Regions from separate parts of the Homo sapiens genome. Here all the other regions are linked to region 1. The links come from fine-mapping of genetic effects on gene expression. A gene starts in region 1. Each other region holds a variant in brackets. All regions are shown on one strand. Distances are from middle to middle.

Evidence for each region. PIP is the estimated chance that this variant, and not a neighbour inherited with it, causes the effect. A credible set is the group of variants that fine-mapping cannot tell apart.
Region 2: its variant is the best candidate, but not a certain one, in a credible set for the expression of MAPK8IP3 in whole blood (INTERVAL, PIP 0.62).
Region 3: its variant is the best candidate, but not a certain one, in a credible set for the expression of MAPK8IP3 in monocytes (BLUEPRINT, PIP 0.74).
Region 4: its variant is the best candidate, but not a certain one, in a credible set for the expression of MAPK8IP3 in cerebellum (GTEx, PIP 0.89).

The regions. Positions count from the first base shown.
Region 1 is chr16:1,702,490-1,709,736 of GRCh38, forward strand. MAPK8IP3 (mitogen-activated protein kinase 8 interacting protein 3) reads left to right here and starts at 3,706. Exons shown (of 32, transcript NM_001318852.2): 1 at 3,706-4,168. The coding sequence starts at 3,851. It also overlaps a transcript of JPT2 not described here. RefSeq lists silencers at 2,259-2,553, 3,460-3,799, 4,070-4,179, 4,200-4,249 and an enhancer at 3,037-3,901.
Region 2 is chr16:1,537,576-1,544,822 of GRCh38, forward strand. All of the region lies in intron 19 of IFT140 (intraflagellar transport 140), which reads right to left. It overlaps TMEM204 (transmembrane protein 204), which reads left to right. Exons shown (of 3, transcript NM_024600.6): 2 at 4,346-4,501. Among named protein-coding and RNA genes, the nearest start is that of TMEM204, 7.5 kb to the left of the region's middle. RefSeq lists an enhancer at 4,846-5,548. The variant G/A (reference allele first, on the strand shown) is at 3,708.
Region 3 is chr16:1,919,817-1,927,063 of GRCh38, forward strand. It overlaps a transcript of HS3ST6 not described here. Among named protein-coding and RNA genes, the nearest start is that of HS3ST6, 5.0 kb to the left of the region's middle. RefSeq lists enhancers at 1-379, 380-943, 1,092-1,386. The variant T/G (reference allele first, on the strand shown) is at 3,078.
Region 4 is chr16:1,736,109-1,743,355 of GRCh38, forward strand. It overlaps MAPK8IP3 (mitogen-activated protein kinase 8 interacting protein 3), which reads left to right. Exons shown (of 32, transcript NM_001318852.2): 5 at 7,224-7,247. Among named protein-coding and RNA genes, the nearest start is that of MIR3177, 4.7 kb to the left of the region's middle. RefSeq lists enhancers at 3,170-3,748, 3,749-4,326. The variant G/A (reference allele first, on the strand shown) is at 4,188.

The sequences.
Region 1 (7,247 bases):
GTGTGAATAACAGACCCCGAAGGGTTGCCACCTCGAGCCCCGTGCCTTGTCCAGGAATACACAGGCTCTTTTGATGTCAGGTAACTTTGCCATATGATCTTTGTGGTGTACCTGGTAGGTCACACCCTGTGAGTGTGTAGATGCCTCCTCCCGTGCTGGCTGCTTAATTTCTTCTGCACTCATAATCCTGACCATCTTGAAGATCATCACTGAAATACTCCTGTGTAATGTGTGGCTACAAAGTGCTATCTAAAGATGCTCTCTCAAACTCAGCTCATGAAGATGAGAGGAACATCACAGGGAACTGTGTGGCTTCTTAGCAGGCATCAGGGCAGATACTTAGAAATTAAAGTTGAATTTTAGAAACTTACATTTTATATTTTAATGCCCATCTTACATTTTAAGGTATTTTAGTGAGAAAAAGTTGCATCCCAAATAGTATTTCTGAATCTGAAAGGAAGTCAACTCCTCTGTTACTAGAAGTTCGTTCTTCTTTTTTTTTAGACAGAGCCATTCTGTCACCCAGGCTGGAGTGCAGTGGCACAATCTGCTCACTGCAGCCTCAACCTCCCAGGCTCAAGTGATCCTCCCACCTCAGCCTCCCAAGTAGCTGGGACTGCAGGCATGCACCACCACGCCTGGCTGATTTTTTTTTTTTTTTGGTAGAGTCTGGGTTTCACTATGTTGCCCGGGCTGGTCTCAAGCTTCTGGATTCAAGCGATCCTCCCTCCTTGGCCTCCCAAAGTGCTGGGATTACTGGTGTAAGCCACTATGCCCAGCTGTAAGCAGTTCTAATTCAGCACCAACTTTCAGGAGAAGACCAGTTGTATGATTCCATAAGTGTCAAGAATTATCCAGCACCTTGTTAAAATTTCATTTTAACCAACTTAAAGTAACAAATCTGTGCAATCATGGTAGTGATAATTAATCAATTGAGTTGATGGCCAAGTCTGTTGGCCTCTCCCTGTGGTAGCATTGTTCCTACTGTAGTGTGCTACCTCAGGAATTCAAAGGGCTCAAGTTTCTCAAAGGTATAAAGCAGAAGCTTTAAACATCCCCCAAAATGCAAGCTTGCTCTAACTTGTTCACCAGGAAGAATTATAGATTACATCTGTTTGCCCAGCCTTATCATTTTCACTTTATGGAACCTCACAACTCTCCGTAACCTTTATCGCACGTTATTTGCTGGAGATGGCGCCATGCTCCTTTCATGGATTAGCTGACATTCCTAATAGGCTGGATATTTTAGGCTGTTTTGCAGGCTTAGAAACAGAGATTTGGGGCCAGGCACGGTGGCTCATGCCTGTAATCCCAACACTGGGAGGCTGAGGTGGGTGGATCACCTGAGGTCAGGAGTTTGAGACCGGCCTGACCAGTATGGTGAAACCCCCATCTCTACTAAAAATTACAAAAATTAGCCAGGCGTGGTAGCACATGCCTGTAGTCCCAGCTACTCGGGAGGCTGAGGCAGGAGAATGGCTTGAACACGGGGGGCGGAAGTAACAGTGAGCTGAGATGGTGCCACTGCACTCCAGCCTGGGCCACAGACTGAGACTCCATCTCAGGAAAAAAAAAAAAAGAAAAGAAAAGAAATGGAGATTTGGCAAAATTAAGTCACTTGGGATCCCAGGAAATTGGAATCTGAGGCTGAATGAAACCTCTTAGTGGGATGGTTGAACATGTATACGGCAAATTATGTTGCAAGTGGAAAATGTGAAAAACACAATAGAGCCTGGCATGGTGGCTCACACCTGTCATCTAAGCACTTTGGGAGGCCAAGGGGGAGGATCGCTTGAGGCCAGGAGTTCAAGACCAGCCAGAGTAACAGTGAGACCTCTGTCTCTACAAAAATGTTTTTAAAATTGGCCAAGCAGTGGTGGCTTACACCTGTAGACCCAACTACTTAGGAGGCTGAGGTGGGATCACTTGAGCCTAAGAGTTCAAGTGAGCCCTGATCATGCCAGTGCCTCCAGCCTGAGCAACAGGGTGAGACCCTGCCTCTAAAAACTGAACAACAAAAAAAATCAGTAGGGTGTCAGCTACGGGAGTTACTGTTTCGGTGCAATCAGATTAGGATGAGAGGATCTGAACTGATGAGCATTGCAGTAGGTGAAAGACGGTAAGTGGCCATTTCTATTAGCATTAAATAGTCACTGATGTGGTTTCATCAGGATTCACAATACATGTGTGGCTCCCAAATTGAGTTTCAAAGTCTTGGGTTCATGGTGTCCCCTGCCCAGCAAAATAAAGTGCAAATCTTACGGAGCAACACATTTTAAGTTCAGGCCTCAAGTACTTCCAGAGACAAAAGTCCTGGGGACACTGGCTCAGAATGGGGGAAAGGGGACCCTGGGCCAAGAGTCAACCAGGATGACATGCAGAATCAGACCTGCAAGGGCTGCAGATACTGTAGTTATGAGGCACACCCAACGCTTAAAGATAAATATGTGGTTGGAAGTATAAGAGCCTATTAAAACTGCTAGAATATAAGAAATCAAATAGGACAAAAACAGAATCATTGGCAGGGTGCAGTGGCTCACGCCTGTAATCCCAGCACTTTGGGACGCCGAGGGAGGCGGGTGGATCACTTGAGGTCAGCAGTTCAAGACCAGCCTGGCCAACATGGTGAAACCCCGTCTCTACTAAAAATACAAAAAAATGAGCCGGGCGTTAATAGCGCGTGTCTGTAGTCCCAGCTACTCAGGAGGCTGAGGCAGGAGAATCGCTTGGACCCAGGAGGCGAAGGTTGCAGTGAGCCGAGATCGCGCCATCACACTCCAGCCTGGGCGACAAGAGCGAAACACCGTCTCAAAAAAAAAAAAATCGGTGCAATTAATAACCCAGTGGATGGGTTAAACAGATTGCACGTAGCTGAAAAGTAACCGAAAATCTGGACTGGCGCGGTGGCTCACGCCTGTCATCCCAGCACTCTGGGAGGTCGAGGCGGGCGGATCACTTGAGATCAGAAATTTGAGACCAGCCTGGCCAACATGGCGAAACCCCGTCTCTACTAAAAATACAAAATTAGCTGGTCTGTAATCCCAGCTACTCCGGAGGCTGAGGGAGAAGAATCACTTGAACCCAGAAGGCGGAGCTTGCAGTGAGCCAGGATCGCGCCACCGCACTCCAGCCTGGGCGACAGAGCAAGACTCCATCTCAAAAAAAAAAAAAAAAAAGAAAATCTGAAGCAGTCAGTGCAGTAGGGAGAAGTGGGCGAAAGGAAGGAGGCCACGCTGCTGGGTTTCAGGATGAGATGGGCGTTGAGGGTGCATTCACAGAATCCCGGGAGGAGCCAGCTGAGCGGGGAAGGCATCAGGAGAGGGGAGGCACTGAGCGGGGCGCGGTGCTGTAGGGAACGGAGGCTCATCAGGGCGGCCGGGATTGAGGCGCAGGCGCTGAGCCTTCACCTAAGTCCGCCGAAGTGTGCAGAGCCTGGAGACGGGATCGAGGTCACCGGAAGCCCACGGTTGCGGGGACATGATCAAGCTACAGCGCGCTGGGGGAAGCGACCACTGCCGCCCCGCGGATCCCACCGGCCTGGCCGGGAGCTCCCTCTGCCCGGCTCACCCGCGCTTCCGGCCCGAAGCCCGGCTTCCTCTGACGTCACGGCCCCTGCGCCCCCTGGCGGCGCGGCTGCGGCGGGACGCGCGGGCACCGCCCCCTCCGGCTGGAGGGCGGGACTTCCGGTGAGTGAGTGACGGGCGCAGCCTCGGCAGCGGCGGCGGCGGAGCCCTGAGGCGACAGCAGCTGCGGGAGGCGACGGGCTGCGGCCTGCGGAACCTGAGGCAGCTGGGGAGGGCCGGGCGCGCCGGCCGGATAGCGAGCCGCGCTGGCGGCGGCGGTGGCCGCGATGATGGAGATCCAGATGGACGAGGGCGGCGGCGTGGTGGTGTACCAGGACGACTACTGCTCCGGCTCGGTGATGTCGGAGCGGGTGTCGGGCCTGGCGGGCTCCATCTACCGCGAGTTCGAGCGCCTCATCCACTGCTACGACGAGGAGGTGGTCAAGGAGCTCATGCCGCTGGTGGTGAACGTGCTGGAGAACCTAGACTCGGTGCTCAGCGAGAACCAGGAGCACGAGGTGGAGCTGGAGCTGCTGCGCGAGGACAACGAGCAGCTGCTCACCCAGTACGAGCGTGAGAAGGCGCTGCGCAGGCAGGCGGAGGAGGTGCGTGGGCCGCGGGACCCGCCCGCATCCCCGTCCCGGACCCCCAGCCAGCCCCGGGCCCCGGACCCAACACCCGTCCCGACCCCAGACCCCGCTCCGGCACCCCGGACCGCGGGACCCCTGGACCCCCAGACCCCGCCCCGAGACCCGCCTGGACCCCATATCCCCCGCCCCGGGACTTCCCCACCCCCTCTGCCCGCCGTGAGACACCTCCCTAGAGCACTCCCCCGCCTGCCCCGGGACCCCACCCCGACTCCCGGGGACCCCCTTTTCCGCCCAGGCCTGGGCCCTGGCCCCCTCCTCCGTGCCCCCAGCCCTGAATCTTCAGCCCCAAACCCGATGTGCCTGGCGTCATCCCCGGGGAGCTCAGCTTCAAAGCCAGGCCTCACTCTCCCCTCCCCACCCACCTCTGCATGACAATTGCCTTTGCTTTCGTGCGTGTGTTCAGTCAAAACCGTTTCCCGACCCCAAGTGCTACCTCTGTTGGCTGCCATTCTAAACCCATCTAGAAAAGGAATCTTTTGGTGTTCTTAGGGGGCTGCAGCCGTCTGTGGATGATGTTGGAGACCTTTCCCTTGTCCCTAATCCCGTATTTTGAAGGTCTGTGACACGGGTGAATTGGGTGGTTGATGTAAACACAGAACAAGGCCGCAGGCGGGCTGCTCCTCTGTCAGCAGAAGGAACACTCGAGTTTCTGGAGGTGATGTCTTTGCCCCCTTGGTTCCTTGCTTGGCGAGATTGTTAGCTGATGTAGCCAGGGCTGAGAAACTCCACTCTGGCTTCTGAGGAGTTAACAGTCTGAGTTTGAAGCGTTTAATTCTGTGCTAGGATGTCTCCATAACCTGGAAATCGCTTGTCTGTGAAGCAGTTACAAGAGCCGGGCCCTGTGGGGAGCACCACTTAGCTTCATTCATTCACCGTCAGATACTGAGCTCGGCCTGCCTGTGTGTGGGCCCAGAACCTCGCCCTTTGTCAGAAACAGGTTCAGGGAGGCTGGTTCCCATCCCTGCTTTGCCTCTGTGACCTTGGCCTGTCGCCTGCCTGGGGTTCGATTTTCCATCAAAGGAGTGAATTGCACTAGGCGATCTCCAAGCCCAGAAATTCTCTCATTCTAGGAGTTAGGTAATGCTGTTTGACTTATGAATAGAAGTGTCTTAGGAAATGAGCTTCAATTCCTTTTCAATTAATTCGGCTTAACACATTCTTGACTTTAATAGGAAAATAAAAGATTGTGTCAGTATTTTGGCTTTTTCTGAAACCAAGGTGATTTATGGCCTAGTTTGGTTTAAAGCGTGTTTATAAAAATCATAACAGTATGTTGTATCATTCCTCCTTTCCTGTGGTTTCTATTGCGTTTGGGCTTCGTGTCTGTCGCGAGGTGGTTATGCATTGATTGGAATGCCCCGGTTCCAGCAAAGCTGAGTTAAAGCTCTCAACCTAAGGGAACGCAAAGGTTCATGGATTTTGGAGCTCAGGGTGACTATAGGCATTTTACTGGGAAGGAAACTTGTCCTGAGAAGTGGAGGGGCTGAACCAAGGTCACCCACCCCAGAAGTGCCCAGCCAGGATGCAGAGTGAACCCGACACCGGCCTGGGCACTTGCTTCCATGTCAGGCAGCTGCAGGCACCGGAGGGCTGCTCCCCAGAAGCCTGGAGTGCCAGGGCTGCCCTCGCTCAGCTGTGGAGCTGTGGCTGCCCCCTGTGCTGGGCACCGCCCTCCACTGCTCTCCCACACTCAGTGGCCTGACCTGGATTTCAGGTGGGTTTCTTTTTTTCACCTTGTACCTGTGTGGTCAGTATAGTGGACGAGAAGGAACTGAAAGGAGAAAATCAAGATGGACAACGTTAAGGCTAGGAATTATAACCTTGCCGCTTAAAAATGAGCTGTGCACAGGATAGGCGCTGCCCAGCTCTGTGCGGTTCACATGCAAGCTGCTGTGAGTGCATCTGCCCTCCCCCAGGGCTCCTGCTGAACCAAGCTGGCGGGTGTGCGTGTGGTTTGCAAAGCTATCACCTTTAGTCTGAGACCCACCATTGCCCCAGCGCTTTAGAGAAGCTGCACCGAGAGCTTCGGGAGCCGAGCCCCGAAGCCAGCCAATGCTTGGCCAGCATGGAGGCTATGATTAAACGCTAACGGGGCGCCCTTGGAAAGACCTCAGGGCTTTACAACTAAGGAAGAGGGCTCGATGCTGTCAACATTTGGCATGCCTACTCCTCTACTGAATCAAGCAGACCTTCATTTCCAACTTTGTAGACCATTGTGCCCTGTGGGTCGGCGTCTTTTCTAGGCAGGGACTTGTGATCACATAGACGTGTGTCTGATAAGAGGGGAGCGGGACGTCACACGCTGCAGGCGTGTCTTGTTGCAGAGGAGCTCCTGGGTGAGCTGTCAGCAGAAGCTCCGTCCCCAGCCACTCTGCTCAAGAAGGCTTAGTCAGAGATGGGTAACCTGAGCCACTGCAGCTTCTGAGCAGACAGAATCCGCAGGGTTTTATAAAAACCTGAGCAGAGCAGACATCCCTGTTCCCATCTTCTTGCCGGTCATTACCACAGTGACTCCCAATGTGCTCTGATAACAGGCAGCTGAGTGTATGAGAGTGACAGGAGCTAGAGAGGGTGGGGTCTCCCGAGAGACTGACCCAAGCCGTGGAGTCTGCAGACCCCAGCCTGAGTGTCAGCCCGGCCCTCAGGAGCCACACACCCTGGGTCCATCCTCTTCCCCTCGCTGGGCTGCAGTGGCCGCGGACTTTGCAAGTCAGTTTCATCTCAAGATCCAAGCACCATCACTGGCTGTTGGTTGCCTGGAGAATTGTGGGCAGGCAGATGTAGCAGAGTCAGGGCAGAACCCTTGACGGGTTCTCAGGGCCGCCGTGGACGGCAGGCACCGGACATTGCTAGCCGCCTACCAGACAGTGCAGTTTCTGGTTGTGCAGGCTCTGATACAAAGTTTTTTAAAACCCTCAAGTTATTTCCCAGTGGAAAAGAAGAAGGTGGGAAACAGCAGCTGAACGGGGTGGGGGCTGGCAAGGAGCAGATGCTGCCTCCACACGCACCGTCCGGTGCAGCTCCAGAGGAGGGC
Region 2 (7,247 bases), 160 kb before region 1:
CGGATCAGGGGTGCTCTTTCCCTGTGAGGAGCTCGGGGGACCAGGGAGGCCTGAGGTCCACCTCACATGCCATGTCCAGAGGGGGTCTCAATTTCTCCTCCTCACTTCGTCTCGTTTTGGATATTTACGTCATCTCTCTGTATTTCGTGCGTTCTGTCAGGCATCTGAAACAAGGTGGCTTGGGAACAGATGACCGTGTGATTGAATCTCGAGGCAGGCGAGCCAGAGCCTGGCGCTAGCTGAGGGGGAGCCCCACCCCTCTCTCCGGTGGCTCCACGTGGCTCCGTCACCACGCATGCCCCGCCACACATCAAACGGGCACGTAAGACCCTGCCTGAATACAGGTGGAGGACAGAGCTCCCGGGCTTCACCCCCTGCTCGGCCAGGACCCAGCTGAACCACGTTCTCACCGACACCTTTAAAAGTCAGCTGCTACCACGCACAGCCACGCAGAGCCACGCAGAGCCACGCACACAGGCAGCACCCCAGGAACCCGTATAACACCCAAGCAGTGAACGCCAGCTCCAAACAGCTTTCTTGGGGCAGGCGGGAGCGTGGCTCAGACAGGAAGGCTCGGGCAGGAGTGCCTCCTTCCTGGCAGGGCGGTGGGTCTGTGGGTGCCCTTGTGGTGAGCCATGCACCCTGGGGACTTGGAGGCTGCAGAGTGGCTTGTGGGGCACGGCTGCTGCACAGAGCCCCTGCCATGGTGTGTGGCACAGGGCTGTGTGCCTGGAGCTGCGAGGAAGGAAGGCTGAGAGGCCAGGGCTGAGGGCGAGAGGACAGGTCAGGGGTGCGTCTGCTTATTCCCAGCTCCCAGGAACCTTGGTCACTCACCCTCACCACAACTACACGTGCAGCTGTGCCTGGTGCTCAAGCCCACCTCGGTCATGCCATTCTGGGCTATGCTCCTCCCAGGGCAGCTCTGCATCCCTCCTCCCCCTTCATTCTGGTCTTTCCTCCCCTCCAGGGCAGAGCGCAGAGCCCTGGGCAGGGAATCTGAGCTGCTCCTCTCTCGAACATGACCTTCTGCGTGATGTTTTAATGCCTCCCTCATTTTGCAATGTTTAGAGAAGCAGAGGCTTCTGAATGGAAGTCATTGCCAAGACAGTTAAGAGCAAAGATGGCACAGCACCGTGCCACAGATCCTGCTGGAAGGGGCCTCCAGAGCTCACACACGTCCCTAATGTGTGGACAGGACGCCCTCAAAATGCAGGCCTCACTCCGGTCCCTGCAGGCTGTACGTGGTCACTGCTTGGGGCTGGCTGTGGAGTCCGTTGGAGCAGTCAGGAAGGTCCTGCCAGTCAGCCAGGGCAGTGTCTGCCTCAACCCTGGCTCCTGCTGGTCCCATCTGCACAGGCCCTAGGGCAGGTGAGAAACCCAGGGCAAAAGCGCCCCCTACCTCAGGCCTCACCAAGCTGCACGGTGCCACGCGGCCCCCCACCTCAGGCCTCAGCAAGCTGCACAGTGCCAGATGGCCCCACGCCTCAGGCCTCAGCAAGCTGCACAGTGCCAGATGGCCCCCCACCTCAGGCCTCAGCAAGCTGCAGAGTGCCAGACGGCCCCACGCCTCAGGCCTCACCAAGCTGCACAGTGCCACGCCGCCCCACGCCTTGGGCCTCACCAAGCCACACGGTGCCAACGCCGACCCAAGCCTCAGGACTCACCAAGCCACACGGTGCCAAGCCACCCCACACCTTGGGCCTCACCAAGCCGCACAGTGCCAGTGACGTCCCATGCCTTGGGCCTCAGCAAGCCACATGGTGCAAATGCCGCCCCACGCCTTAGGCCTCAGCAAGTTGCACGGTGCCAGGCTGAGGTCAAGCACATCTCTGCTGTCCTCTGGCATTTCCAGTGCCCTGGGCTCTGCCCCTTCCTCCAAGCACTCTGGCCCCACGGCCACCTATGCCCATGCTGAGCCAGGTCCTCACCTGCTGCCAGGCTTTCCCGCTGTCCGTACGGGAACCCCTTGGCCACCAGGCTGGCTCTCAGCCCCCGCGTCTTCTGTTCCTTCTTTAGAGAGAACCTCGCGGGAGCGCTATGGTTTCTAACTCTGCAGTTACTTTGGAGATGAAGGAACGTGAGCTCTCAGTTACGTGGCAGTGACGCTCACTGGGGTGTCTGTTTTGCTGCGAGAAAAATGAGCGAGGGGCAGCTGCTGCCGCTTCCCATGGCCCTGTCAGTGGTGCCTGCCTGTCTGCGGGCAGGCAGCGTGCTCCGCTCTCCCCCTTGCCAGCGGAAGGCTCATGGTGCCATGTGCTGGCTGCTCAGACTCCTCAGCAGCCCGGGGACCCCGTGCCCCAGGGTCCTTCATGCCTCCACTCTCTGCGCACTGCCCTCACACCCTGGAGGTCTCAGGGCTGGGGGCGCCACCCAGGCCGGAGCGGGCACAGTGGAAAAGCCTGGCATCCAGGAAGGAGAGCTCCCTCCGCCCCGAGTGACAGGAGGGGACGCTGTGGAGGGAAGCAGCTTGAAATACAGTGGGTAGGACGGCGGGGGGACCCTCAGTGGCGAGGAGCAGTGTGCCTCCAGGGATGCTGGGACGCCGAAAGCCTAGACTGAGACGATCCCACACACCACCTCAGCCTGGGGCCGGGGCAGATGTGAGCGCTGGAGCAGCACCCAGCCCAAGGGCCAGGTGGGAAGCAGATGCCTCGGCTCCAGAGCTTTGAGGTTATTCTGTGAATCCAGATTGCATTTCAATAAATGTTGAGGTTGAACCGTGTGGAATTGCTAATACTGGCAATAGTGGTTCCAACGGATACTTCTAACCACGTAAACACTCACGAAGTAAAGCAGCCCGCATCCCCCACCACCCCTGAGCCTTGATGCCAGCGTGCCTGCCCCGTGCACGCGTGAACCTCGACAGCTTCCCCTGCTGGGCTGGCTTCCCACAGGCGTGCTCTGAGGAGGCAGCTTGAGGATCTCCCCATCCCCTCTCGGCCTCCACCCAGGACACACAGCAGTCACCCTAGAGGCCAGCACCTTCAGGGCTCTTGGGACATTCTGCTGCTCCCTGGATTCTGGTGTCTGTGATGAATGCGGGCACAGGGACCTGCTCCTGAGCCTGGATTCTGGTGTCTGTGATGGATGCGGGCGCGGGGACCCGCTCCTGAGTGGTGAGGCTGCTTCCCTCTTAGATTCCTGCATCAGTTACCTGAAGAGTGCCCTGAAATTTCAAGGCAAGTCATTTAAAAAGGTGCAACTGTTTATAACGACTTAGTTTTGGGAATCGAATTTCCCAAATATTGTTCAATAGAAAACAAGGCATGGCGATGACAGGCTAGGGACTCTGTGGGGCTGTTGCTTCACATGCAGTCCCTGACTCCAGGCTGAGTGTCTGTCAGCACACACATTGTCTGCTCTGCAGCGTGCAGGGGCCTGGGAACACACTGCTTCACCACCACCTCATTTGGGCCCCTGTGTAAGGTTTTATTTGCGGGAGAACATTTCTCTGCTACAGAAACGTGACGAGCCCTGGTCCCTGAGGGCAACAAACGCACCTCCCTCTGAAGTTCACTCACAGAAGGCTCCATCTGCCCCTGACCACGCATCCATGTGCCCTGCCCACCTGGCTCCTGCAACCAGGTGTAGGTGGGGGACAGAGAAGGCTGGGCACAGGCCTGCTGTGAGTGGGGAAGCAGGCCCTGACTTAAGCCACTGAGTGAAAGATTTGTGGCAGATGGGGTGACGGGGCCCCAGGAGGTGAG[G/A]GGGGCAGGTGGGGGGCACTGGTTCAGACCCATGTCTGACCCCTGCTCAGCCCCTTGCTGGTTATGAGGGGCCCAGATGAGCTGCTTCTCCTCGGTCCCAAGTCCCTCAGCTGCTGGGAGGAGGGAACACCACCATGAGCCGCTTGGGGGTCGGGCAGCTGAGCACGCAGGACAGCACGCCTGAGGAGCTGGCCCCCCGCGGAGTCTCCGGTCAGGCAGCGCCCTCGTCTTGGATGCTGTGAATTCAGTGACAGGGAAGCCGGTGTTGCTGGTGGGCTTCCCCTTCCCACCTCCACCCCCACGCCAGCGCCTTCAAGGGTCAAGTCAGGCAGAGAGGAACAGCTGTCTCAGGAAGACAGAAATAGCAGAGTAGGGCCCGTCCCTGCAGGGATACGACCACTGCAGCCAGGCCCGGCGGCTGGGATGAACCCTTCCCATCAGGAAGACATGGGACCCAGGGCTTGCAGGCAGGTGAGGGGGAGGGCGTGATGCTTCCCGAAGCCACTGCCCAATGGAGGCACAGCCTGTGCCGACCGCCCTTTCCGAGGCAAACAGAGACCACGAAAGTGGCGTGACGGCTGGCGTGGCCTCTGGAGCCCACCTGCACTCACCACTGCCTCTCTGCTCTTGGCCCACAGTGCAGTTCGACATGATGCGCGCCTGCAACCTGGTGGCCACGGCCGCGCTCACCGCAGGCCAGCTCACCTTCCTCCTGGGGCTGGTGGGCCTGCCCCTGCTGTCACCCGACGCCCCGTGCTGGGAGGAGGCCATGGCCGCTGCATTCCAACTGGCGAGTAAGTACCTGGGCGGGTGTGGCCACCGCGCCCTTGCCCCCTGTGGCCTTCTGGTGCCACAGGAGGGTCCTGAGGCCTTGGGTGGCCTGGGGGGAAGCTGCAGGCCATACCTCTCAACATGGCCACAGGCCACTGAGAAGCCCCATGGGGCATCCTCCCTCCCTCTTGCTGTAGGCAAGAATGATGAAAGACAGAAACACACCCAGGCCAAGGAGCAGGGAGGCTGCGACCACCTGGCGTGTCTGTCACACCCTTTTCCACTTTAAAGGCTGAGGCACTTTGCTTTCCTGAGTCTGTGGGGTCTGATTGCTGACTGGCCCTTGTGCAGTCCACATGGGGCAGCCTGGGTCCTGCCCCTTCCTCAATGCTGAGGCAGCTGGTGGGGAGCAGCCCCTGGGCAGAGGCAGAAGAGCCCATGCCTGGCCCTGACCTTCCCAGCTAAGAGGCCTAGAACAGGTCAGGCCTAGGAAGGCCAAGGCATGTGCTCTGTTATAAACGCAGCTTCCTAGGACCTGCCTGGGGTCAGCCTGGGGTCAGCGCAGGCCCTTTCCGTGAGCGGGACAAGACAGAGTGAGAACACGCTAGCACGTTCCACACTGCCTGAGCCGACAGTGAGGTGCCTGCACGAGCACATGCTGTGTGCCTGGCTCGGACACTGATGCAGACGGCAGGACCATCACGAGGCCCTGGCTTCCCCAAGCCGCCATGTGAGTTGGGGAGGAGGCCCGGCCTTGCAGGCGAGGGGCCATTGGTGCTCAGAGCCTCCTCTCAACGCTCTAGACCCAGCAACCTGGGACAGGTCTTGAGAAGACCTGGCGTCATAGAGGGTGACAGTGATGGAGTTGTCGTCAACGACCTATGGAAGGGTCCTGCGGTGTTCTAGACAAGTGCTTGAGCCACAGCAGTGTCCAGCCATGACCCCCAGCGACCCCAGGGGGCTCTGCTGGTCTTCTGTGGCTGACTGAGAGGTTTGAAGACTGTGGGCATCTGGGGCAGGCTCAGGTCTCCTGCTGCTCACTGGGACAGGTCAGCCCGGTGCCCGCAGAGACAGGGACACAGAGAAAGCGAGCATGTCGGCCCATGGCTGAGCATGACCAGCACGGAGCTGCCCGCACCCTCCTTCTCCTCCTCGAGGCCGGTGCAGCGTTCTGCAGGTTGCCCTGCAGTTCCCACAGAGGAAGTGGCAGGAAGTCCAGAGTGAATCATTCTAGGAATAATGATCCTGGGCCCTTATCTTTCTTAAGAAATACAATTTCCAGAAGGAGGCTGACAGACTGTGGGGGCAGGTATTCCTGTGCTGGAAAGTGCCCTGAGCGAGTCAGGCCGGGCTCTCTGAGCGCTATTAATAGCATGGCGTGGCCCTGGGCAAGTCACTTCCCCTGGCGGGTAGGGGCGGGAAGGGAGGGGCCTCGAGGCTTCAGTGGAAGAGCACAGGGCGTGGAGCCTGGAACTGGAGCTGTGTCTTGGCTCCATCACCATCGACGTGGGGTCAGGCAGATGACTAAACTAACGTGAGCCTCTGCATGCCCAACTTCGAAAAGGGTAATTTCTGCCCCCACCCAACTGACTGTAAGAACGAATGAGACAGGGATGTGGGACCTAGGACTGACTCCGCCTCCTCCCCTCCTGCATGACTGCAGGGAAAACATGAGACTCTCAACGAGGTACCCAGGCTAGGAAAGCTCCCACGGGGCCCTCTGCTGACCCGAGGGCCATAAAACAGAGAAGTGGTTTTCCTGTCTCACTGAAATGGCCAATCTCTACCGCGTGCAGGAATCGGAAATGCCGTGGCTTAAAGAAGGAAATGGAAGATTTTGAAAATGTAATTGGAAATGCTGGGTCAGAATAAAGATATTTTAGCGGCATAGAGAAAGCAAAAGCAATAGTTTTTGATTCTGAAAATAACTCCTTCTGTAAGATAACCCAATGGATCACTACATTTCTTTTTTTTTTTTTTTTGAGATGGAGTCTTGCTCTGTCACCCATGCTGGAGTGCAGTGGCGCAATCTCGGCTCACTGCAACCTCTGCCTCCTGGGTTCAAGCGATTCTCCTGCCTCAGCCTCCCGTGTAGGTGGGATTGCAGGCACCTGCCACCACGCCCCACTAATTTTTTTTTTTTTTTTTGAGACGAAGTCTCACTCTGTCACCCAGGCTGGAGTGCCGTGGCACAATCTCGGCTCACTGCAAGCTCCACCTCCCGGGTTCACGCCATTCTCCTGCCTCAGCCTCCTGAGCAGCTGGGACTACAGGCGCCCGCCACCATGCCCGGCTAATTTTTTTTGTATTTTTAGTAGAGATGGGGTTTCACTATGTTCGCCAGGATGGTCTCGATCTCCTGACCTCGTGATCCGCCCACCTTGGCCTCCCAAAGTGCTAGGATTATAGGCGTGAGCCACCGCGCCTGGCCACGCCCCACTAATTTTTGTGTTTTTAGTAGAGACGGGGTTTCACCATGTTGGTCCAGCTGGTCTCGAACTCCTGATCTCAGGTGATCCACCCACCTCAGCCTCCCAAAGTGCTGGAATTACAAACGTGTGCTACTGCGCCCAGCTGGATCACTGCATTTCTTTTTCTTTTTTTTCTTTTTTTGAGATGGAGTCTCGCCCTGTGGCCCAGGCTGGAGTGCAGTGGCGCGATCTCGGCTCACTGCAAGCTCCGCCTCCCGGGTTCACGCCATTCTCCTGCCTCAGCCTCCCGAGTAGCTGGGACTACAGGCACCCGCCACCACGCCTGGCTAATTTTTTG
Region 3 (7,247 bases), 220 kb after region 1:
CACCTGCTCATCTGGGCAAGCCTCTGCAGGAGCCCCGTGGGCAGGCAGCGGGCACAATGCGAGGAGAGCATGCTGGCTTATGCTGGGTCACAGGAAATTCTTCTTCTGGTCTAGCTTGAAACGGTATTGTTCCCAACGGGCTGGCTCGGGGTGGGGGCTGGGGTCCCACCCTGCAGCATCCACCCCACAGTCTCAGCAGTCCCCACGGTCTCAGGAGTCCTCACGGTCTCAGGAGTCCCCACGGTCTCAGCATCCCCATGGTCTCAGCTGTCCCCAGGGTCTCAGGAGTCCCCACGGTCTCAGCCGTCCCCATGGTCTCAGCCGTCCCCAGGGTCTCAGGAGTCCCCACGGTCTCAGCCGTCCCCACGGTCTCAGCAGTCCCCACGGTCTCAGGAGCCCCCACGGTCTCAGCCATCCCCACGGTCTCAGGAGTCCCCACGGTCTCAGCAGTCCCCACGGTCTCAGGAGCCCCCACGGTCTCAGCCATCCCCACGGTCTCAGGAGTCCCCACGGTCTCAGCCGTCCCCACGGTCTGAGTCCCCACGGTCTCAGCTGTTCCCACGGTCTCAGGAGTCCCCACAGGTTCAGCAGTCCCCACGGTCTCAGCCATCCCCACGGTCTCAGCCGTCCCCACAGTCTCAGCCATCCCCACGGTCTCAGCAGTCCCTACTCAGGACTTGAAATTCCAGCACTGGTTCCGTGATGGCTCCTCCAGCCCCCTGCCCAGCCCAGCATGGTCATTTCCATCTCCTGGCCTTTCCGCTGCCGTCTCTCTGCTGGATGCTTTATCCTTAGTCCCCGCTGAGGGCAGAAGGACTTTCCAGGAGGAATTGACCAGAACGCAGAACAGCAGGATGTGGAATGGACTGGGGACAGGGAGAGAGAGATGCAGGGACCAGGAGTCGGCTCGGAGGGTTCTCCTGGAAGCTGACCCCTCCCTCCATCAGGCACTCGGCTGACGGTGGCTACACACCTCGGGGCGCCCAGGATGGCAGCACTGGGGCTGTTCATTCACCAGTGGATCCCCAGCACCTAACAGAGCCTGGCACGCAGTGGACATTCCATTAATGTCGCTCAGTGGAAGGGTATACGTGGGAGGAGAGGTCGGGAAGGCTTTCTGGAGGTGACGGCCAGGTGAAGACGAGGAGAACAGCATTCCAGGCCAAGGAACCGTGTGGGTGAAGGCTCAGCAGCAGAGAGCCCGGGCAGTAGAGGATGGGGTGGAGCTTAAGGCCCTGCGGGAACAGGGGCGGGGCTTAGAGTCTGGCCTGAGGCTGGTCCAGCCCCGCCTCCTCCTCAGGCTCCCACCAACTCTGAGCCACCAGACCCTCCTTTGTAAAATGAAGACCTCAGTCATGACTCGCATGAGTCTCTGAAGAGTAACAGCTTTATTGTGATGTAATTCACACACCACTCAATCCAGCCATTTGTCGCATGCAAATCAATGGTTTTCAGTATATTCATAGTCGTGCAATCACAATCAATTTTAGAACATTTCTATCACCCCAAAAAGAAATCCTGTGTCCATTAGCAATGACGCCCTCTTCTCCCCTTCCCACAGCCCCTGGCAACCACGAATCTACTTTCTGTCTCTATGGGTTTGCCTATTCTGGACATTTCACAAAAAGAGAATCATTGCTTGAAGCCAGGAGTTCAAGACCAACCTGGGCAACAAAGCGAGAACCCCGTCTGTACAAAATATTTTAAATTTAGCCAGGCACAGTGGCGCACACCAGTAGTCCCAGCACTTTGGAAGTCTGAGGCAGGAGGTTCACTTGAGGCGGGGAATTCAAAACCAGCCTGGGCAACATAGGGAGTACCAGTCTCTACAAAAAATTTCAAAATTTGCCAAGCGTGATGGTATGCACCTATAGTCCTAGCTTACTCAGGAGGCTGAGGTGGGAGGATCGCTTGAGCCCAGGAGTACGAGGCTGCAGTGAGCCATGATCATACCACTGCATTCCAGCCTGGGCGACAGAGTGAGAGCCCATCTCTAAAACAGAAAGAAAGAAAGAAAGAAATATGGCCAGTCACAGTGGCTCATGCCTGTAATCCCAGCATTTTGGGAGGCCAAGGCAGGTGGATCACTTGAGGTCAGGAGTTCGAGACCAGCCTGGCCAACATGGTGAAACCCTGTCTCTACCAAAAATACATAAATTAGCCAGGTGTGGGCCAGGCGCCATGGCTTACACTTGTAATCCCAGCACTTTGGGAGGCCGAGGTGGGCAGATCACCTGAGGTTGAGAGTTCGAGACCAGCCTGACCAACATGAAGAAACCCTGTCTCTACTAAAAATACAAAAAATTAGCTGGGTGTGGTGGTGCATGCCTGTAATCTCAGCTACTTGGGAGGCTGAGGAAGGAGAATGGCTTGAACCCGGGAGGCAGAGGTTGTGGTGAGCCGAGATCGCGCGATTGCACTCCAGCCTGGGCAACAACAGCAAAACTCCATCTCAAATAATAATAATAATAAATTAGCCAGGTGTGGTGGTGCACGCCTGTAGTCCCAGCTACTCGGGAGGCTGAGGCACAAGAAACCCTTGAACCCGGGAGGCAGAGGTTGCAGTGAAGCTGAAATTGCACCATTCCACTCCAGCCTGGGAGACAGAGTGAGACACCATCTCTAAAATGAAAAAAAAAAAAGAGAATCATACAATGTTCGTCCTTTTGTGTCTGGGTCTCTTACTCAGCATGTTCTCCAGGTTCATCAACACTGTGGCATGTGCCAGTACCTCCTTCCTCTTCCTGACTGAGTAATACTCCATCGTATGGATGGACCACCTTTTGTTGATTCCCTCATTCGTTGATGGACATCTAGGTTGTTTCCACTGCGGGGTTCTTATGAATAACGCTGCCATGAACATTCAGGTATACGGTTTTGAGTGGACATACGTTTCATGTCTCTAGGGAATATACCTAGGAGTGAAATTGCTCAATCATATGGTAACTCTGTGTTGAGTGCCTTATGAAGGTTAAATCTGATAATTTCAGGAACTTCTTCTCCATGCTCCTCACACACAAACTTCCTTCCCTCTGCCCCAGGACACCTGAGCAACCAGACTGTAGGGACAAAGGGTG[T/G]GGGCTGTCCCTGCACCCTGAGAGGGTCCCTCGCCTCCTGCTCTCTGTCTGAATGTCCTCCTCCGCCAAGAAACAGACATCAACAAGTTCCTTCTGCCTAGCCGGATCTCCCAAGGCCCCAGGGGTTTTGAGGGTCCACACTGCCCGAGCTCATCTTGACCCCTGTATAAGCCAGACAGCCAGGCAGATGGTCTGTCCACCCTCCAGCTGACGAACATGTGGATGGTCGGCCTGATGTAGTGGCTGGGAGGAGAGGATCTGGGAGGGGAGATGGGCTGTGCTGCCCCAGCTGCTGGGCCCAGTAAACGTTGTCCCTTGGAGAGGTGACAAGGAGGGCCAGGGCAGGAGGGGATGGAGAGGGGAAGAGGTGGGGAGTCCTGGGGAGCAAGGCCGTGCTAGGAGGAATGCCCTGCCCGGCGTCAGATCCTCAACCAGCGTCCTGGCTACATTTGTGCCCCCTTCACAGTCTGTAACTATTTCTTTGTGGGTGATTTTGATCCCTGTCTCCACCTACCCATGATCTCTACAAGGGCAGAGACGGGGTCAGTCTTGATCCCTTTTGTGGCTCCACGCCTGACCAGGATGACAGCTCATGTTTGTTGAGCAACTAAGTGACTGTGTGTGTGTGTCTGTGTGTGTCCCTCCCTGACACCCCTCTCCACCTCTTTCCCAGTCTGTCCCCTCCCCGGGGTGGGCAGCCCCAGCCTGGGCCCTCACAAGCGAGGGCAGGACCGCGGCCCCACTCTGGAAAGTGATTAGCGGCCCCGCCCTCCGCCGAAGACAGCTAGGGTAGATTTCACACAGCCAGGAGGAGCTCCAGGAACTCCCTCCCTGAGAACCACACCCTTCATCCCTGAGACTGGCTCTGCCCCGCTCCGTGCCTCCTGCCAGGATTCCTGCGAGGGGAGCAAGCGGAGGGGGCTGCCGCCAGAGGGCGGGCCCAGCTGTCCTTGATTTGTGTGGGGTTTTTCCACTTCAGATGCCTGATTTGCCCGAGCTCATAAAGGATGTGGTTCCCTCCCAGGGAGGGGCCCCTCAGAGAGGCCAGTCCCCCATCCTACCCTCCCCGAGGGCCCGCTGTTCCCAGTTCACCCTGGTGGGGACCGAGGCGGGGCAGGAGCCCCTTGCTAGGATGGGGCAACGGTAACAGCAAAGGCTGTAGGGACCTTCAAGGCTGATTCAAGGCCAGCACTGTGGCCGGGCGTGGTGGCTCACGCTTGTAATTCCAGCACTTTGGGAAGCTGAGGTAGAAGGATTACTTGAGCCCAGGAGTTTGACACCTGCTTGGGCAACATAGGGAGATCTCATCTCTAAAGAAAAAAAACTATTTTAATTGGCCAGGCATGGTGGTGCACACCCGCGGTCCCAGCTACTCAGGAGGCTGAGGTGGGAGGAACTCTTGAGCCCAGGAGGTCAAGGCTGCAGTGAACTATAATTGCACCACTGCACTCCAGCTTGGGCCACAGAGCAAGACCCAATCTCAAAAAAAACCAGCCAGCTCTGCCCCCTCCTAGCGGGTGACCTTAGCAGGAGTCCAGGCCTGTGATCCTCACTTCCCTACTGTATTAAACAAAGTTGACACTCACCCCCACCTCCCTTTGTACCCAGCTCCTAAGTGCTTGGTGAATGTTCTTTACGACAAGGACCCAGAGAACGTGCGGCAGGGGCCACAGAAGGGGTGCTCGGAGGCTGCTCCCGCGCTGGGGAAACTGAGGACCTATCTCATAATTCCGTCTTCCCTGCAGACAAGGCTGGAGCACAAAGGCATCACTGGCCTCACGGTGGCAAGCAAGCCTGGCTTGCCGAACCCTGGATCTTGTTCCTGGTGACCCAGGGACACTGTGACAGAGAAGGGTTGTGGGGCTTCCCAGGATTTGCCAAGGCAGACCAGATTCCCAGCATCGGGAAGGACGCTTCCCCACTGTCTTCAGTCCCCTGCCTGCTGGGAGCCTGCCTGGGGTTGCAGGGTTTGCCAGAGGAGCCAGAATCCTCTCCTGCAGAGGGGTGGCCCCAGCCTGCTTCCAGCCACCCTCAATCCTCTCCCTTGGGTCTTCCTGGAGGAATCAGCACAGAGAGAAGGCGATTTGCTACTCTTTCCTGTTCCCTCCCCCAACCTCCATGAATAACTGGGCCCTGCAAACTGCCTCTTGCCCACCAGCCTGGCCAGTTCAATTTATAAAAATGTAGCAATCAGGCCGGGCACAGTGGCTCACACCTGTAATCCCAGTACTTTGGGAGGCTGAGGCGGGTGATCATCTGAGGTCGAGAGTTCAAGACCAACCTGGCCAACATGGCGAAACCCCGTCTCTACTAAAAATACAAAAATTAGCTGGGCACAGTGGCTCGTGCATGTAATCCCAGCCCCTTGGGAGGCTGAGGCAGGAGAATCGCTTGAACCTGGGAGGCAGAGGTTGCAATAAGCCAAGATTGCACCATTGCACTCCAGCCTGGGTGACAGAGCTAGACACTGTCTCCAAAAAAACAAAACAAAAAACAATGTAGCAATCCTTCTTCCAGGCTGGTAGTCCCATTTGTGCCTCTATCTCCAGGGTGGATCTGAACAGGACAAGAGGAGGGTCCCACAGAAACAGGGCTCTCCTTGCCCTCCCCCAGCCCCACCTCCTCCAGTTTCATAGCCCTAAGCCAGGCCTTTGGGCATGGAAGTCTCCCAGCCCTGTGGGGAGGGCAGAGCAGCGTTCAATCAACCCCAAGAGAGTCCTCTGTGGCCAGGTCTGTCCAGCCCTGTCGATGGTCTCCATGGACTGGAAGGCCACCAGGAGCATGTTCGTCAGGAGCAAGGGGACTGGACACAGGCCCAGGAGTCCCATGCGCTGCACAGGAGATGGGACTCTGTGTGCCTGTCTGTGGACCCTGGTGAGTGTACACATCTTCTGTGAGTGTGCACGTGGGCACAGGTGGAGGGGGGTTCAGAGGCCTGCAGCCAGGCCCCAGGCACCTTCACACAGTGTGGAAAGCCCCAAGTGACACCCCACACCACTTTTGGAGCCTGTAAGCCCCCTTCTGTTTTTTGTTTGTTTGTTTGTTTTTGAGAGGGAGTCTCGCTCTGTTGCCCAGGCTTGAGTGCAATGGCGCGATCTCGGCTCACTGCAACCTCCGCCTTCCAGGTTCAAGTGAATCTCCTGCCTCAGCCTCCCGAGTAGCTGGGATTACAGGCATGTGCCACCATGTCCAGCTAATTTTTTGTATTTTTAGTAGAGATGGGGTTTCACCATGTTGGCCAGGATGGTCTCGATCTCATGACCTCAGGTGATCCGTCTGCCTCGGCCTCCCAAAGTGCTGGGATTACAGGCACGAGCCACCGTGCGCGCCTGCCTGTAAGCCCCTTTTGAAGAGTTAGTCCCCCCTGGCCAGCAGACAGGATCCCCAGCAAGGGCACCTCCATTTGCCCTACTTCCGGGGGCAGCACCTCACCCCCGCAGTGGACCAGACAGGCATGTGGCCTGTCTTACTCGGTTCAACGCTCAGGAGGACTCAGAACCTGCAGTCAGGCCGAGAGCTCTAAATTCCTCTTCCCAACCCCCACCCCTGCCTCGCCCCTCTTAGGCTTCACAGCCTTCAAAGTCAACCCCTCCCCCTCCCCCCACCCCTCTGGCCGAGAGCCAGGACTCCATCCCTCATCTCCCAGGCTGGTCACTGCTGTCCTCTCTCTGACTCCAGTTGCCCTCCCTCGCCTTAGACCTGGATACACACCAGGGGCTCCCCGGCTTGGAGTTCTGGGGCCCAGCAAAGAATCATACTCCGAGAGAGACTTCGAGACCAAAAAGGCCATGGAGTTGAGGTGGAAGGGGAAGCCCAGGGCCAGCAGGCCTAGTCCATGGCTGGAAGCAGACCCCAGGGGTCCTGGCACCCAGCCCACCTGGTTCTGGCCACCCTCTCCTCCCCTCTCCTGCATTGCAGCCACCAAACCCTTCGAAGCCAAGAGTAGCTTATAAATGTCCTGGAGATGAAACTCGGTAAGACAGGAAGTCAGGGGCTGAACCATGAATAACCTCCAAGGTTTTACAAGGAGACAGGGAGTGGAGGGCCGTGAGGGGTTGGAAGTGGAGAAAGCTTATCCACAGGTAACCCTGAGCCCCTCCCCAGCCGCCTCCTGGCCCTCTGTCACTGAAGCCCCACCAACCTTCTTCCCAGGGCTTCTTACCCCAAGCT
Region 4 (7,247 bases), 34 kb after region 1:
TGTGACCGTCCGTGTGTGTGACCATCCATGTGAGCATCTGTGTGACCGTCCGTGTGAGCGTCCGTGTGAGCGTGTGACCGTCCGTGTGAGCATGTGTGACCATCCGTGTGAGCGTCCGTGTAAGCATCCGTGTGAGCGTGTGACTGTCCGTGTGAGCGTGTGACCATCCATGTGAGCATCCGTGTGACCGTGAGCGTCCGTGTGAGCGTGTGACCGTGTGAGCATCCGTGTGAGCGTGTGACCGTCCGTGTGTGACCGTCCGTGTGAGCATCCGTGTGAGCGTGACCGTCCGTGTGTGACCGTCCGTGTAAGCATCCGTGTGAGCGTGTGACTGTCCGTGTGAGCGTGTGACCATCCATGTGAGCATCCGTGTGACCGTGAGCGTCCGTGTGAGCGTGTGACCGTCCGTGTGTGACCGTCCGTGTGAGCATCCGTGTGAGCGTGTGACTGTCCGTGTGTGACCGTCCGTGTGAGCGTGTGACCATCCATGTGAGCATCCGTGTGACCGTCCGTGTGAGCGTCCGTGTGAGCGTGTGACCGTCCGTGTGAGCGTGTGACCGTCCGTGTGAGCATCCGTGTGACCGACCGTGTGAGCGTCCGTGTGAGCGTGTGACCGTCCGTGTGAGCGTGTGACCATCCATGTGAGCATCCGTGTGACCGTCTGTGTGACCATCCGTGTGTGACCGTCCGTGTGAGCGTGTGACCGTCCGTGTGAGCGTCCGTGTGAGCGTGTGACCGTCCGTGTGTGACCGTCCATGTGAGCATCCGTGAGCGTGTGACCGTCCGTGTGTGACCGTCTGTGTGAGTGACCATCCATGTGAGCATCCGTGACCGTCCATGTGAGCGTGTGACCGTCCGTGTGACCGTCCGTGTGAGCATCCGTGTGAGCGTGTGACCGTCCGTGTGAGAGTGTGACCATCCATGTGAGCATCCGTGTGACCGTCCGTGTGAGCGTCCGTGTGAGCGTGTGACCGTCCGTGTGAGTGTGACCATCCATGTGAGCATCTGTGTGACCGTCCGTGTGAGCATGTGACCATCCGTGACCGTCCGTGTGAGCATCCGTGTGAGCGTGTGACCGTCCGTGTGAGCGTGTGACCATCCGTGAGAGTGTGACCATCCATGTAAGCATCCGTGTGACCGTGTGAGCGTCCGTGTGAGCGTGTGAGCGTCCGTGTGAGTGTGACCATCCATGTGAGCATCTGTGTGACCGTCCGTGTGAGCATCCGTGTGAGCGTGACCGTCCGTGAGTGTGTGACCGTCCGTGTGAGAGTGTGACCATCCATGTGAGCATCTGTGTGACCGTCCGTGTGAGCGTCCGTGTGAGTGTGTGAGCGTCCGTGTGAGTGTGACCACCCATGTGAGCATCTGTGTGACCGTCCGTGTGAGCGTCCGTGTGAGCGTGTGACCGTCCGTGTGAGTGTGTGACCATTCGTGTGAGAGTGTGACCATCCATGTGAGCATCTGTGTGACCGTCCGTGAGCATCCGTGTGAGCGTGTGACCGTCCGTGTGTGTGACCATCCATGTGAGCATCCGTGTGACTGTCCGTGTGAGCGTCCGTGTGAGCGTGTGACCGTCCGTGTGTGACCATCCATGTGAGCATCTGTGTGACCGTCCGTGTGAGCATCCGTGTGAGCGTGACCATCCGTGTGTGTGACCATCCGTGTGAGTGACCATCCATGTGAGCATCCATGTGACCGTCCGTGTGAGCGTCCGTGTGAGCGTGACTGTCCGTGTGTGTGACCATCCATGTGAGCATCTGTGTGACCGTCCGTGTGAGCATCCGTGTGAGCGTGTGACCGTCCGTGTGTGTGACCATCCATGTGAGCATCCGTGTGACTGTCCGTGTGAGCGTCCGTGTGAGCGTGTGACCGTCCGTGTGACCATCCATGTGAGCATCTGTGTGACCGTCCGTGTGAGCATCCGTGTGAGCGTGTGACCGTCCGTGTGAGTGTGTGACCATCCGTGTGAGAGTGTGACCATCCATGTGAGCATCCATGTGACCGTCCGTGTGAGCGTGACTGTCCGTGTGTGTGACCATCCATGTGAGCATCTGTGTGACCGTCCGTGTGAGCGTCCGTGAGCGTGTGACCGTCCGTGTGTGTGACCATCCGTGTGAGAGTGTGACCATCCATTTGAGCATCCGTGTGAGCGTGTGACCGTCCGTGTGAGTGTGACCATCCATGTGAGCATCTGTGTGACCGTCCGTGTGAGCATCCGTGAGCGTGTGACCGTCCGTGTGTGTGACCATCCGTGTGAGTGTGACCATCCATGTGAGCATCCGTGTGACCGTGTGAGCGTCCGTGTGAGCGTGTGACCGTGTGAGAGAGTGACCATCCATGTGAGCATGTGTGACCGTCCGTGTGAGCATCCGTGTGAGCGTGTGACCGTCCGTGTGTGTGACCATCCATGTGAGCATCTGTGTGACTGTCCGTGTGAGCATCCGTGTGAGCGTGTGAGCATCCGTGTGAGTGTGACCATCCATGTGAGCATCTGTGTGACCGTCCGTGTGAGCATCGGTGTGAGCGTGTGAGCGTCCGTGTGAGTGTGACCATCCATGTGAGCATGTGTGACCGTCCGTGTAGCATCCATGTGAGCGTGTGAGCATCCGTGTGAGTGTGACCACCCATGTGAGCATCTGTGACCGTCCGTGTGAGCGTCCGTGTGAGCGTGTGAGCGTCCGTGTGAGTGTGACCACCCATGTGAGCATCTGTGTGACCGTCCGTGTGAGCGTCCGTGTGAGCGTGTGAGCGTCCGTGTGAGTGTGACCATCCATGTGAGCATCTGTGTGACCATCCGTGTAGCATCCATGTGTGTGAGCGTCCGTGTGAGAGTGTGACCACCCATGTGAGCATCTGTGTGACCGTCCGTGTGAGCATGTGAGCATCCGTGTGTGTGACCATCCATGTGAGCATCTGTGTGAGCGTCCGTGTGAGCGTCCGTGTGAGCGTGTGAGCGTCCGTGTGAGTGTGACCATCCATGTGAGCATCTGTGTGACCGTCTGTGTGAGCATCCGTGTGAGCGTGTGACCGTCCGTGTGTGTGACCATCCGTGTGAGTGTGACCATCCATGTGAGCATCCGTGTGACCGTCCGTGTGAGCGTCCGTGTGAGCGTGTGACCGTCCGTGAGAGTGTGACCATCCATGTGAGCATCTGTGTGACCGTCCGTGTGAGCATCCATGTGAGCCTGTGACCGTCCGTGTGAGTGTGTGACCATCCGTGTGAGAGTGTGACCATCCATGTGAGCATCCGTGTGAGCATCCGTGTGACCGTCCGTGTGAGCATCCGTGTGACCGTCCATGTGAGCATCCCTGTGACCGTCCGTGTGAGCCTCCGTGTGACCGTCCGTGTGAGCTTCCGTGTGACCGTCCGTGTGAGCATGTGTGACCGTTCGTGTGAGTGTGTGACCGTCCGTGTGAGCTTCCGTGTGACCATCCGTGTGAGCATCTGTGTGACCGTTCGTGTGTGTGTGACCGTCCGTGTGTGACCGTCCGTGTGAGCTTCCGTGTGACCGTCCGTGTGAGCTTCCGTGTGACCGTCCGTGTGAGCATCTGTGTGACCGTTCGTGTGAGTGACCGTCCGTGTGAGCTTCCGTGTGACCGTCCGTGTGAGCATCTGTGTGACCGTGTGTGTGTGACCGTCCGTGTGTGACCGTCCATGTGAGCGTGTCACCGTCCATGTGAGCATCCGTGTGACCATCCGTGTGAGCGTGTGAGCATCCGTGTGACCGTCCGTGTGAGCATCCGTGTGACCGTGTGAGCCTGTGAGCATCCGTGTGACCGTCCGTGTGAGCATCCCTGTGACCGTCCGTGTGAGCTTCCGTGTGACTGTCCGTGTGAGCATCCGTGTGACCGTCCGTGTGAGCGTGTGACCGTCCGTGTGAGCATCCGTGTGACCATCCGTGTGAGCGTGTGAGCATCCGTGTGACCGTCCGTGTGAGCATCCGTGTGACTGTCCGTGTGAGCGTGAGCATCCGTGTGACCGTCCGTGTGAGCATCCCTGTGACCGTCCGTGTGAGCGTGTGACTGTCCGTGTGAGCTTCCGTGTGACCGTCCGTGTGAGCATCTGTGTGACCGTTCGTGTGAGTGTGTGACCGTCCGTGTGAGCTTCCGTGTGACCGTCCGTGTGAGCATCTGTGTGACCGTTCGTGTGAGTGTGTGACCGTCCGTGTGAGTGTCCGCATAACCGT[G/A]TGAGCATCCGTGTGATCATCCGTAACCGTGTAGGCGTCCTTGTGAGCCTCCGTGTGAGCGTGCAACCGTCTGTGTGACCGTCCGTGTAAGCGTGTGACCGTCCGTGTGAGCGTGTGCACACGCTGCTGCCCACACCCTCTAACACCTGTCTCCTTATCGTCACATGCTGACCGTCCGTGTGAGCATCTGTGTGACCGTCCATATGAGCGTGTGCGCACGCTGTGGCCCACGCCCTCTAACACCTGTCTCCTTGTCTCGCCCTCTGTGCCATCACCACATGCTGACCATCCATGTGGCGTGTGCGCATTCTGCTGCCCACGCCTTCTAACGCCTGTCTCCTTGTCTTGCCCTCTGTGCTGTCGCTGCCGTGTGCTGCCGTGTCTGTCGCTGCCCTGCAGTCCTCGTCAGTCGTGGAGGAAAAGGTAAAACCCAAGAGGTGTGTCCACTGTGGTGCTGGGGGACGACCAGCAGGCACATTAGGGCATCAGTTACCAGCCCAGGGCGGCTGCTTGGTCTGCTGTGAGGTGTTTCCTGTGGCAGATGTGAGAGGTCGGAAGGGCCATCTGGCCACATTCACGAGACTGACACTGAGAAGGTGGCGACCACTGGGTCCCCTGCACAGCCATGCAGCTGGGCAGCGCCGTCCAGGTCGCCCACACTCTGCCCTCGCTCCACAAGCACTGCCTTGGTCACAGACGAAGGCACGGCGCCGACTCCTGCTAAGGAGGGGTGTGCATCAGGTGGGGCTGGTGCTGACTCGGGGGGCGACGGGCCAAGGAAGGGCCCCTCTCTGCATCAGTCGGACCTGGACTCATAGCCCAGCTCCCTCACTCACCAGCCTGTGTCAGAGCCGGTGACACACCCATGACCCCCAAGGGCAGCGTGACCCCCGAGGGTGGCGTGACCCCTGGGGGTGGTGGTCTCTGAACTAGGGAGCATCTGCATCCCCTGAGGGAGCTGCGAGGACAAATCGGGAGGACGGGGTCAGTCGGCAAACGCTCACGAGCCTGAGGCCAGGGCCTGGGGGCCGGTGGGGAGGAGCAAAGGAAAGAGTGAAGGCAGCTCCTGATCCTGGGTGATTTCTGTCGGAGGTGGTGGCCTGGCTGAGCCGTGGCCCAGCATGGAGCTGTGTGGGTGGGAGAGCCGTACATGCATTCCCTTGGCCTCCTGGGAGACCAGAGGCCCCTCTGACCCTGCTGTCCCCTGTAGCATCTGGTGACAGCCAGGACCGCATCGGCTTCGGTCTAGGGACTGAGACGTGTCTGATGGCGTCAGAACTGGGCCTCAGCAGAGGCGCTCCCCGCACCAGCGTTGGGAGCGCAGTGGAAGTGGGGCCAGGAGGCCCCTGGTGCAGACAGGGCGGTTGAAGCCCAGCCTCCCACTGGGGTCATGCTCCCTGGGCCTGGTGGCTGGCTGCCTTCACGGTGGCCAGGGAACCTCATGGCTGTTGTCACAACAGCTTGAGTGCCATGGACCAGCAGCCAAGATGGCACAGCCCAGTCCCAGCCGGCCCTGGTTCCCTCGTGCTACAGGATACGGTGTTGTCCTGAACATAACAGAGCAGGCGGCCAGTCCCCAGAGCTGTATGCACCCCACAAAGAGACCCCTTCCCAGGGTCATTCTTCATAGCTCCCCACCCAGGTAGCGGAGCTCCTGGTCAGCGGCGGCTGCTGCGTTCCCCTGTCGCCGTCTGCATCCTCCAGGCATGGCCAGAGCAGGTTCCTTGAACCCCTGAGGAAGCTCCCTTCCCTCCTACAGTCTCAGGGCTGAGATGTAAGCAGCTGAGGCTGTGGTGCAAGCAGACTCTTAATTCTTGTCCTGAATAGCCCTGAGCAGTGTGGGCTCCAGCATCTGACCACGTGGCCTGCCCCCCAGACCTGAGGAGGTGAGGAGCCAGCCTGGCCTCTGGGACCTCTGGGCTGTTGACTGGAAACCTCCCGCGGAGGAGGACGTAAAGGGAGACCTTGGGCTCCATCCCTGCTCTTGCTTATGGCCCACAGGAGGTCATCCCTAGGGACTGAGCCCACAGCAGGGGGCACTGAGCACTGTCCTGACAGCTCCAGCTCCCAGGCGCTCCCACTGTCTTGCCAGGCTGTCCGAGGCCAGGCTGTCCCAGGGTCCGTCTTCAGGTTCGGGGCTCCCTGACAGCAGAGAGGACACGTGGGGAGGGAGAAGACGCCCCTCAGGCTCAGGCTCCGGCTGCAGCAGATGAGACGGGGTCAGTCCTTACTCTGGATGTGTCGTGTTCAGATATTTTGCAGTGAGGCAGCCTCATGAACAGGAGTAATGAGGATGGGCAGGAGGGGCCAAGGAACAAGGCACAGGGGCAGGAAGGCTGGATTCCCTCTGCTGGCGCCAGGGGAACAGGCAGGGCTGGCAGTAACACCACAGGGAGGCAGGGCTGGGCACACATAAGACAATGGTCCTAAAAGGCATTGCTCATGGTGGCCGTGCAGCGCTGACCGTGATGCCAAGTCCCGTGGCTGGCTCTGCTGTGGGGTGTCTAAAGCACACCCGGCTTGTGTCTGTTTAAAATTGAACTTAGGCCGGGCGCGGTGGCTCACGCCTGTAATCCCAGCACTGTGGGAGGCCGAGGCAGGCGGATCATCAGGTCAGGAGATCGAGACCATCCTGGCTAACACGGTGAAACCCCGTCTCTACTAAAAATACAAAAAAAAATTAGCCAGGCGTGGGAGGCTGAGGCAGGAGAATGGCGTGAACCTGGGAGGTGGAACTTGCAGTGAGCCAAGTTCGTGCCACTGCACTCCAGCCTGGGTGACAGAGCGAGACTCCGCCTCAAAAAAAATAAAATAAAATAAAATAAAATAAAATTGAACTTAATAAAAATGAGAAACTGCAGCATCATGGGAGGGGAAGCGCCACGTAGGATCATAACTGAGTAGCTGCTCGAGCTGGGCTGCTGGCTGGCATGGAGCGGCCCCATCACTCGAGGTCTGCTTGCCCTGGGAGGGCTTGGGAAATCTTCACGGCCACCCTCTAACCATCGCTTCCTCTCCTCTCGCCCCCCATTTCAGCAGGAAGGAGCGCCCCACCTCCCT